Linked DNA regions of Homo sapiens: region 2 is linked to region 1. Evidence: fine-mapped expression QTL. A gene starts in region 1. The other region holds a variant in brackets. All regions are shown on one strand. Distances are from middle to middle. Region 1 holds the start of IL1RAP (interleukin 1 receptor accessory protein). Region 2 overlaps IL1RAP (interleukin 1 receptor accessory protein).

Region 1 (5,534 bases):
AAGGCCCCTGTCTCTCAGGCACACATTCAGTCATATCCCAGCCAGCTCACCACAATGCATGTACATGGAACAAGCTGATAGAAGCAGGTGATCCCATCCTTTACTAATGCTTGGTGCGGGAGGTACTTAAGTGGGCACCACTGGGCTCTTATCTTCCATCAAGATGTATCACACTCTGTTCTCAAGCACTTACCAATACTGCATACAAATGCTATGGCCTGTGAAGGAGGCAGCCAACTACAAATGCTGGACACTCAATTTAAGGACGCATGGCAAAGCCAGTAGATAGTAGTAAATTATTGCATGAAGTTCATCAGAATAAAATCAATTGTCATGAGAAGGGTTAAGGGTGTGGGAGGGAATCCATTTAACTTTAAAATACCAATAATACAGGAAGACTAGTGTGGGCATGTGAATGTCTGTGTGTTCGTGTTTAAATAAGGCAAGTTTGTGTCCAGAAAGGTTTGCATTTAGCAGCATCTCTGTACAATCCAAAAGAAATATATGAGAATTTTGTTTGTTTTCTGATACTAGATGAAAAATGTAAGGTTGCTCGACTGACCTAAGAGAGCAAGGATAGAAGGCTTAGAATAATCTGTAACACAGCTGCAACTTCCAACTTTGTCTTCTTGTCTTTCTGCCTCTCACCCATTTCAAGACCCTCTTTGTCAATAAAGGATGTCTCAGATCAGGGCAGTTCACAGGCCTGAGGTTTGACCTAAAAACTAGTAGGAAATTCATATCACCGAGAAACATCAATTTTACATTTCGAGCTAAGCATCCATGATCCACATCACATATGGACAACATTCAGAAAATTCTTATTATAAAAGAGTTGCTCAAATTCAAAAGAAGAAAGACACCACATTTACAGATTTTTTTAAAATGCCTCTGTAAGATGGTATGAAATCACCTTTCTGAAAACCCACTGTCTGCAAGGTTACTATGTAACAATATTTACAATAGTTGCCATTGGTTTTGAACCAACCAGATGCCAGGCCAGGCACTGTGCTAAACATGCTACTTGAATGATCCCATTTCATCCTTCCAACTACCCAAAGGGCTCATTGTGACCATTATAAATCTCCATTTTTTGGCTGGAAAAAAAAAAAAGGAAGAAAGAAAGAAAAGAAAAACCCAGTATCGGAAAGGTGAGATAACTTGCCCAAGTTCACACTGCTAATACATGGAAGAGCTGGAGTCAAAACTCAAGTCCTCTTTCTCATCCAGTAGCTAAACCAGGGATCTGTACAGCAGAGCAGCAGAATGCTTCGCGTGGCGCCCTGGTTCACAATTTCACAACCAGAAGGTGGAGGGAAGACAGGCTGTGGGCTAGCTCTTAAAGGAAACAGCCGAAGTTTGCTTTTATGTTTGTGATTTTCTCTTTAACTCAGCTTCCTTGCTCCCTCTCAGTATTTAGAAGAGGGAAGGGGCTCTATGGTTCCATGAAGTCAGCTCTTCCCAAGTGAGGGGCACCCTGTGCCCCACAGGGCCACTAGCTCCGCTTCCTCCGGGGCTGGGAAGAAACAGTACCATAGGAGGTCACTGGCGCCCGGGCCTCGCTCCTCTCTCCCCGCGCTCCTCCAGAAGCTGGTCCGACACCCTCTGAAGGGGCATCTTTCTGAGAAAGCAGGTCAGGGGAAGAGGGAGTGAGGCTGCAAGCAGCATTTTCCCAGGCTGTCACAGCTCTGCGCTGAGAGCGACGTGATACCGAGTGGGCGTGCTGGGACACACCGCTTCCTTCTGTCCTCGGCGCTTCCAGCAGCGGTCTGGAGAAACCAAGGAGGAGATGGGGGCGGGGGGTGGTAGCGGGGAGGGGGCGGTGAGGAGGAAAACAAGGGTAGACCCCTCAAAGGGCTGAGGATGGGGGCGGCAACGAGCAGACGTCCCACAACCGCGTTACTTAAATCCCTGCAAAGCAAAGATGGGTCTCTGAACGTTTGGGTTCGAATCCGGGCTCCAGTCCTAACTAGCAGTATGACCTATCCCAGCCGCTGCCTCGTTCTGTGCCTCAGTTTCCTCTTCTGTAAAGTAGGAGGGTTTAACGATAGGATCTCTAAGAATCCGTCTACCCTGAGATTCTGCGGCTTGGTGACTTCTGAGCCCTCACGGCGGCGCGAGACTCACCTTTCTTGGGAAGCTGAGAGGGCGCAGCAAAAGCAGCCGGGATGGGTGCAGTGTCGCCGGGCACTGCTTCCTTCCGCGCCTCTGGCCAAAGCGGACCCCGGAGACCTGGATCCCGGCAGTCTTCCCCAGTGAGCCTCTTACTTTCCGCCGCACTTTCTTTTCCCCCTTTGGGGCTCCTCCCCCGGAGCGGCGCGATTGGCCACGGCCTCACGGCTCAGGCTCCACCCGCCGCCTTGGCTCGCGATCCACCGGCGCTCTGGGCTTCCAGGAGCTGCGGCCGCGGGGCGGCGTCCTGGACGGTCCCGCCCGCCGCCAGGAGGCGCGGCGCCGGGCCCGCCTGCGGACGGATGCAAGGCTGCGCTCGGCCCCTTCGGCTCCCTGCCACCGCCTGTGCGGGCTTGAGCGCGCGGGGAAAGGAGAGGGTTAGTCCTGCAGCGCAGCTCGGCACGCTGCCAGGCGCTGTGGGAAGCTACGCCCCTCACTACACACCGAGGCGCACACATGCGCTCATTGCAAGATCGTGCTCTCGCAGTTGAGATCGGTGCCACCCTGCCCTTTCTTCCTGTCTCGACGTATTTAGCAATCATGCTGCAAGGCCTTGAATCAATTCAGACTGCACGATTTTCGCAACCACCCTGTGCCGGCACAGAGCGCGGCAGGATGTAGATGCGATCTCCGCAGTCCTGAGCTCTTGCTGTCTTGAACTGACATTCATATGAGCAAGCAACAGGACATGACAGCAAGACTAAATCTGTATTGTCCACTGGTAATATACCCATTGCCTAGCACAGTGCCTGGCACAAAGTAGGCACTCAATACATGTATGGGGAACGAATAAAAGAACTAATAGGTTACATAGAAGGAAATAATCTCAAAACAAATATTTGCCTTCATTCATTTCCATTTCCCCAAGTTTTTGCAAGAGCCTTCCTTCAGCTGCCCTCTGCCACTGTAGATGGTAGTCTGTAATATATCCCGGGAAGCGTTATAAAGGCTTTCATTAAGTCATCTCTCTTGTTCAGGCACCTTCTGCTGTGTTCCTACTGCTAGTGCCTCATGATTTTTCCTGACTGGCAAGGCCCTTCATGACCTGTCCCCATTTCTGAAACCCCCTAACCAAAGCCACCTACCAGACTGACGAGTCTTCGCACATCTTCTTGCTCATCACATCTTCTTTTCTCCTCCTCCTACCTAACTGAATCCTACTAATTTATTTTCAAGAATCAAGATTCAGAGAAAGCATTTAAGGAAAAGGAGAAAAAAGATGTGAAATAAGAAAAGGGCCCAGGTGAGTGGGAAGGAAATGAAACCAGCAGGTGCCCGTGCTGCTAAAGGTGCACAGCAGTACGAAACTCAGAGGCTGCCCCTGCCCTGGCGGAGCTTCAGTTCCTAAGGTGAAATATCAGTGTAATTGGAGCCATAGAAATGTTCATGATACTTTACTTCTTGACATCACTTATGAAAATTAATTGCTCAAAATTTTTATTTATCTCAGGATACCTGGGACCCAGCACCTGCTCACAACATTGTCACTGAACCAAAGAGAAAATAATCCAAAAGAATTTAAAATGTTACCTGTATGAAGCAACAATAAAACATTTTCTGATTTATTATTCATTCCTTAAATATATTCTGGGCACAGACTTTTATATATATATAGTACACTGAAGCATTTACACAGTGCTTACAAAATAAAAAGGTGCAATCATAAGGACTTTGTGTATATTAATTCAGGTAACCCTCAATACAACCTGGAGGGTGCTATTATTATCTCCAGTTCATAAAGGAGATAAAGGGAATTTAAATAACTTGACCAAGGCTACAGGCCTACAAGTGGAGAATACAAAATGAGACTAGAGACACTCGACGTTCATGCTCTCAGCCGCTACTCAGTCTCATGTACTACCTAGAAGCCAAACAGATGCTAGTAATTCAGAATTGAACCAGATGTATATTCCCGGACATTGAAGGGCTACTCATAGCTTAAGGAAGATAACATTAAGATGAATAATCATATAGACAAATATTCATAGTATATTGTAGTTTGAACACAATATAAATGGTTGGAAATGAAAATGATTAGTTAACCAACGCTGTCTACGCACAGAATAAAATATTTGCATCATAACTATCATATTATGGAAATATGTCTACAAAGAAAAAGGCTTACAAAATAAGGTTGAGTAAAAGTTGTGGAGAGATGAACACCAATTGAAAGGAATGTGAAAAAATGTTGATATGTTAGGATTACAGAAATAGAAACATCTCTTTTTCCTTTTACATTTAAGTGAAATAAACCAAGCACAGAAAGACAAATTTTGCAAATTCTCACTCACACGTGGGAGCTAAAAATTAAACAAAGGAACTGAGATATGAGAGTAGAATGATGGTTACCAGAGGCTGGGAAGAGTAGCAGAGGCAAGGGAGTTGTGGGGAAGGGAGGATGGTTAACGGTTGCAAAAATATAATTAGCTGGAATGTATAAGACCCAGCACTTGATAGCACAACAGAGTGACTACAGTCAACAATAATTAATTATGCATTTTAAAATAAGTAAGAGTGAAATTGGAATGTTCCTCAAAGAAGTGACAAATGGTCAAGGTGATGACACCCTGTTGTCATTACCCTGATGTGATTATTACACATTGTATGCATGTATCAAAACATCACATGTCACCCATACATATATACACCTATTATGTACCCGTAATAATTAAAAATGAAAAAATGTTATGCTAACAATTGAGAAAAATATTTTAAAGCTATACCCATTAAATATCCATCACATACTAAACATTTGATGAATAATAGTTGCCTAAATGAATAAATGAAGCTACAAATTCATTGATGTCAGTGACTAATACTGCTGGATGTATAGAAGATGCACAATAAAATATTTTGCAATTGATTGATGTATTTGGAAAGGTATTATTATTCTCTTCTTCTCCCAGCTTTTACCCTCCACCTTTTTTTTAGGTTATCTTTAATTATCTTGCTGTAGCTGTAAGACGCATCAGGAGTTTGCTAGTCTCTTGAACCCAATCCATTCAGACATTTATCTCTACCACTCCACAGTCAGCATCTGTAATGATCTTCACTTTGCCAAATGTGGTGATCAATTCTCTGTCTTCATTGTACATGTATCAGCAGCATTAGACACAGATAATCTGTTGCTCTTTCACACTCTCTCGTACTTGACTCTTTGTTTTTCATGTATTTCATCTGCTGTTCCTTATCAGATTCTTATTGAATCCTCTACCTCTTCATGATCTCTGAAGGTTCCAGTGTCCTAGAGCTCAATCCTTGAAGTGGTTATATTCTCTACCTAGGGGAACTCAGACAGACACATGGCCTTCTAAAATATCAATATGATAATAACTTGCAAATCTAAATCTAAAGCCCAAACC
Region 2 (5,000 bases), 57 kb before region 1:
TCCGTCTCAAAAAAAAAAAAAAAAAAAAAACAAAGCATTAACCCTGGACATGCTGACCACTCTCATGGCTGTAGGGGCACTAGATGTAAGGAAACTTCTGGAATATTTAAGGTTTCTATTTTCTCTCACCATTTTAATATACTCGGAAGGAGGGAAAGAGTAAGAATGTAAAATAAACAAACAAAAAAACCTAGAAAACATTAACTGTTCAAAAAGGAAACCATTCAATGCAAAGCTCAGGAAAAAAAGGGGGGAGTATTTAAATGTGGTATTAAAAATGGTTTAGCTTCTTTGGTAATCTGAAAAAAGTATATAGCCGGGTTTACATCAGATCCAGGAAACCCGTGTAGGAATATTTTATCTCTATTTTTCTCTTTGCATTTTATGCCTCTCTCTCTCTTTTTCCTACTATCTCTCTTTTTCAAAAAAAGGTCTCTCTCTCTCTTCCTCTCTCCCTCATTATTCCTCTTTTCTCTCCTTCTTCTCTTTTTTCTTATTTGCCTTTACCTTGAGTGGACACCAGAAAATGACAAAAAGACATGTAGAATCAAGCTGTGAATGTCAAAATATCTGTCATATAAGAAATTCAGTTTTCTCTAGATGACCAGATAAATTTAAAAATTCAAAAAACATTGAAAATATAAGAATAAAATTAATGTTTTCACTCTAAAAATCAAACATCAGTCCATTAAGCAATTTTGGGATAGTCTGAAGTCCCAAACGCTAGAGAAGGATAGGGCATTCAGGTTAACTCAGGTGCATCAATTTAAAGCTAGTAGGTTTTTGCATCTGGTCATCAGATAAGTCTATGGCAAACAATTAAAGATTTCTCCCCCTTGAAAAAAAGGGCAAACAAAACTACAGTAAATAATAATTAATAATGGTTGGTATCCACTTGGGAACAATAATTTGTATATCTGTTTGCCTTAAAGCAGATGTGTCCAATCTTCCGGCTCTCCTGTGCCACTTTGGAAGAAGAAGAATTGTCTTGGGCCACACATAAAATAAGCTAACACTAACAATAACTGATGATCTAAAAATGAAAATCACAAAAAGTCCATAATGTTTTAAGAAAGTTTCAAAATTTGTGTTGGGCCATATTCAAGGCCGTTTTGGGCTTCATGTGGCCCGCGGGCCACGGGTTGGACAAGCTTGCTTTAAAGTGATAACAGTGAATCTAAAGTCTTCTCACTCCAAAAATGGTAACTATGTTAGGTAATACATATGTTAATTAGCTAGATTTAGTCATTCCACAATGTATAAATACTTCGAAATGTCATTTTACATATGATAAATACAATTTAATCTCTCATCTAGTAATAATAATAAAGGTCTATATTTCAACTATAGTTGTACTTTTTTTTGAGAAAGAGAGAGACAGGGTCTTGTTCTGTCGCCCAGGCTGGAGTGCAGTGGCGTGATCACAGCTCATTTTAGCCTTTACCGGCCAGTCTCAAGTGATCCTCCCACCTCAGCCTCCTGATTAGCTGGGACTACAGGTGTGCATCACCATACTCAGCTATTTTTTTAATTTTTTTTTTGTGGAGTCAGGGTCTTATTATTTTGTGCAGGCTGGTCTCAAACTTCTGGCCTCAAGCAATCTCCCCACCTCAGCCTCCCAAAGTACTGGCATTATAGGCATGAGCCAGTGTGCCTGGCCCATAGTTATACTTCTTATGCAAGGGTAAGTAATTAGGAAAAAATAAAACCCACCATAATAAATTAATAAAAAGCAATAGTTAACAGAAAAAATCACACATAAAAAAAATCATGATCGATGTGCCTGTTTTCTTTTTCTTTCCTCTTGAGTATCTACACGTATGCAGTAGGTCCTGGAGAAGGTTCCACTGAGGAAACGTAATTGGCAAATAGACTAAATTGGTCAGTCTTGGTAGCACTGGGTGGCAAGTCCAAATCTCAAAGAGACCATAACATTTTCTTACATAAGGGAAGGGGGAAACGCAAACACCAGTATCTTGGTGCACATATCAAAATGAACACTACTATAAACCTTAAAGAGCACTTTAAAAAAAATATGAAAGTAGCCTGCCATTCCAGCACTTTGGGAGGCTGAGGCAGGCAGATCACCTGAGGTCAGGAGTTCCAGACCAACCCGACCAACATGGAGAAACCCCATCTCTACAAAAAAATACAGAATTAGTTGGGCATGGTGGCAAATGCCTGTAATCCCAGCTACTAGGGAGGCTGAGGCAGGAGAATCACTTGAACTT[G/A]GGAGGTGGAGGTTGAGGTGAGCTGAGATCGCACCATTGCACTCCAGCCTGGCAACAAGAGCGAAGCTCCGTCTCAAAAAATAAATAAATAAATAAATAAATAAATATGAAAGTATCTCAGAAGTAAAAAAAAATGGGCTGATGGATAAGAGCCTTAAACTATTTCAGACCCTACAAACACTGCAGAAAAGTGCTATTTATTTCCCAGTAATGTATAGCTATACCAAGCATTTTGGTTCCTATGGTAGAAGGAGAAATGAATGTCATAAAACACAACAGAATATGGTCTAGGTTGCTGAGGAAGTGATTATTTTATTTATTTTCTCTCATTGTCGTAGTCATCTTGCATTTTCATTATTCCCACTATCTCTAAAACACGCAAAGGCAAAGCCAGAAAATTTTGTACATCAGCTTTTATAGGTTTGGATAGCAGGTAACTTGAAGGTGACTGAGGTTCCCAAATTATTTGTTAAATGTATCCATTTTCTCACTGTTCCTCAAAAATAAATGAGAGATGGCAGCACTCAGTGGATTTAAAAATAAAGCAATCATTGTGTTGTTATCCTGGGTGGGTATATATTTTATTTTCTAAAAAGTTAATCAGTTAAACAGAAAAGAAACTTTTTAAGTGGTGAAAGAAAAGTGGGTAGAAACTGGTCTTGGTAGTGAGTCACTGCTAAGGTGGCAATCTGGTCCCTAAAATATGGTAGAAATGAATATTCAGGGTTGGGGGAGTGAGGGAAAGGATAGCAAAAACAAAGGTAATTCAAAGGGTAGAATAAATTCTTGTAAAACAAACATTTTTTCCTACAACGGTATGCAGGAGTTCCTACAAAAATACTGGTTTCCTTTAACTAACACAGCCATGTGAAAAAGAACCAGGTCATTTTTCTAAACTTAGAATTATCACTGTGATACAAGAAGCTGTGTATTTGCAAACTCAGTATCAAGCCAATTATGTGGTACTTAAATTTCTTTTCAATCAGGCTACAGTAAATCCACCCTTGGGAAATATAAGTAACTAAAATATAAGTGTGCTTCAAGCTATAAACACAGCTAAAGAAAAAAAAAAAAGTGAAGAGATCTGCTTCCGAGAGGCATCATTTAAATGACAACAGGGTGAAATTCTGTAATTCCAATGACCTTTAGGACTAAGAATAAAATGAAACAGTATTCTTCATACATTTTCCAAATGTTTGGACTAAATTACATAGAAATGAAGAGTGTTCAGGATGACCAGCCATGGGCAACTGGGACAGGACACAATGTCACAAGTATATCTGAGCACGGAGTTATTAAAGCAAGGATATTCAAATAAAATGAGGCCACTGGGGCTGGTAACAAACTGAATTCTTACCAAAAGGTGAAAGAACCATCACATAGAATTAATAATAGTGTATGTCCTTGCAAAAATACGACAGAATTTAAAAAAAGGAAAAGAAACCTAGCCAACTATAACCAAAATACATTAAATGTGGACATTCTCTTTACCTGAAGTAATTCCCGTCCTGCATAATTTGTTCCCAACCTACCTTTCCAGCTTGGCTTCTAAATGCCTTTGCACTATCTTTTGAGTTGCCCTGAACTATTTCATTCCCAAATAAGAGATGCGTTTCTTCCTAGGAAGGAGCAATGATTAAGTCTTCCCCAATATCTCCTGATAGGATTGGTAACTTTCTCTGCTCTCACGGAATTCTATTTGGTAATTATTTCCTCTTCCTTCTCTCAAACTTTACTGTATTCCTCTTAAAATAAGAAATTCCTCTTACTAACCCTGGATTCTACAATCTAAAATGGTCAAACGCATGATCTTTAGAATAAAGTGAAATCATTGTTAACATTGTTATTAGAAAGAATTTAAGTAGCTAATAGGAGTATACCCTGTGTGTGTCCATGATGCATAGTGTTCCTTCATAAAAATCAAGAAACTGGAATTGACTGGGATCTGCTGCTATTGTTTGTTAATTGTTTGGTTGGTTGGCTTGGTTTATAAATAAGGATGCAATGACAAAAAGTGATGAAATGACCCCTTTACTGTCATCAAACAAGTCACAGAGTAAAACAGAACTTGAATCTCTCAATTACTAGGAAACCACAGTGTTTTTTACTATTTATTTATTTTGCATTGTATAATTCACTCCCAATCATTGGATAGATGATTTCCATTCTCTACCAATTTTGTAAAATATAATGGAAAAGGAATCAGAGGATCTTACTTCTAGTAGCAGAGCACAGTCCTAAAGAAAGGCAATTATAGTATGGAAAAATAAAAAAGAGCACTGTTTCTGGAGTCAAGGCAGCCTGGCTCTATCAGGCAAGCCAGGCTATCATGAGCACTTGGGCCACCTCCCTGGATCTTCATTTCCTAAACTATCAAACAGGTAGAAGAGTCTCCAGCCCCTACCCCTGTACAATGGTTCCTGCGAAGTTCCTGATAATGTGTGTGAAATCCAGCCCTGCACCTGGCACACAGTCAACTGTTGACTTTGAAATAAAATCTTTCTCAAAGATCCGTGTGTGTGCCTGCATTTTGGGGTGGCAGTGTACTCTCTTTTTCATGTGATTTGTCCAGCAAATAATTTTGATATGGTAATATTTTTTAAATTCACTATATTCTATATGGTGCTATTTTTATTACCTCCTCAACTTGGGATCACAGGTTCCAAAATTTATGTCTACTCCAAAGGCAGCTTTTAACAGTTCAGCTTCCTGACACACTGCCAATGAGGCACAGCAAAAGAGACGTGTATTGAGCTGAAGTTTCCATTT

The links. PIP is the estimated chance that this variant, and not a neighbour inherited with it, causes the effect.
Region 2: its variant is fine-mapped to the expression of IL1RAP in whole blood (TOPMed, PIP 0.92).

What each region holds. Positions count from the first base shown.
Region 1 is chr3:190,510,813-190,516,346 of GRCh38, reverse strand. IL1RAP (interleukin 1 receptor accessory protein) reads right to left here and starts at 2,262. Exons shown (of 12, transcript NM_002182.4): 1 at 2,128-2,262. RefSeq lists enhancers at 1,072-1,571, 1,572-2,073, 2,826-2,915 and a silencer at 2,326-2,675.
Region 2 is chr3:190,567,890-190,572,889 of GRCh38, reverse strand. The region is part of intron 3 of IL1RAP (interleukin 1 receptor accessory protein); the gene reads right to left. Among named protein-coding and RNA genes, the nearest start is that of IL1RAP, 56 kb to the right of the region's middle. The variant G/A (reference allele first, on the strand shown) is at 2,232.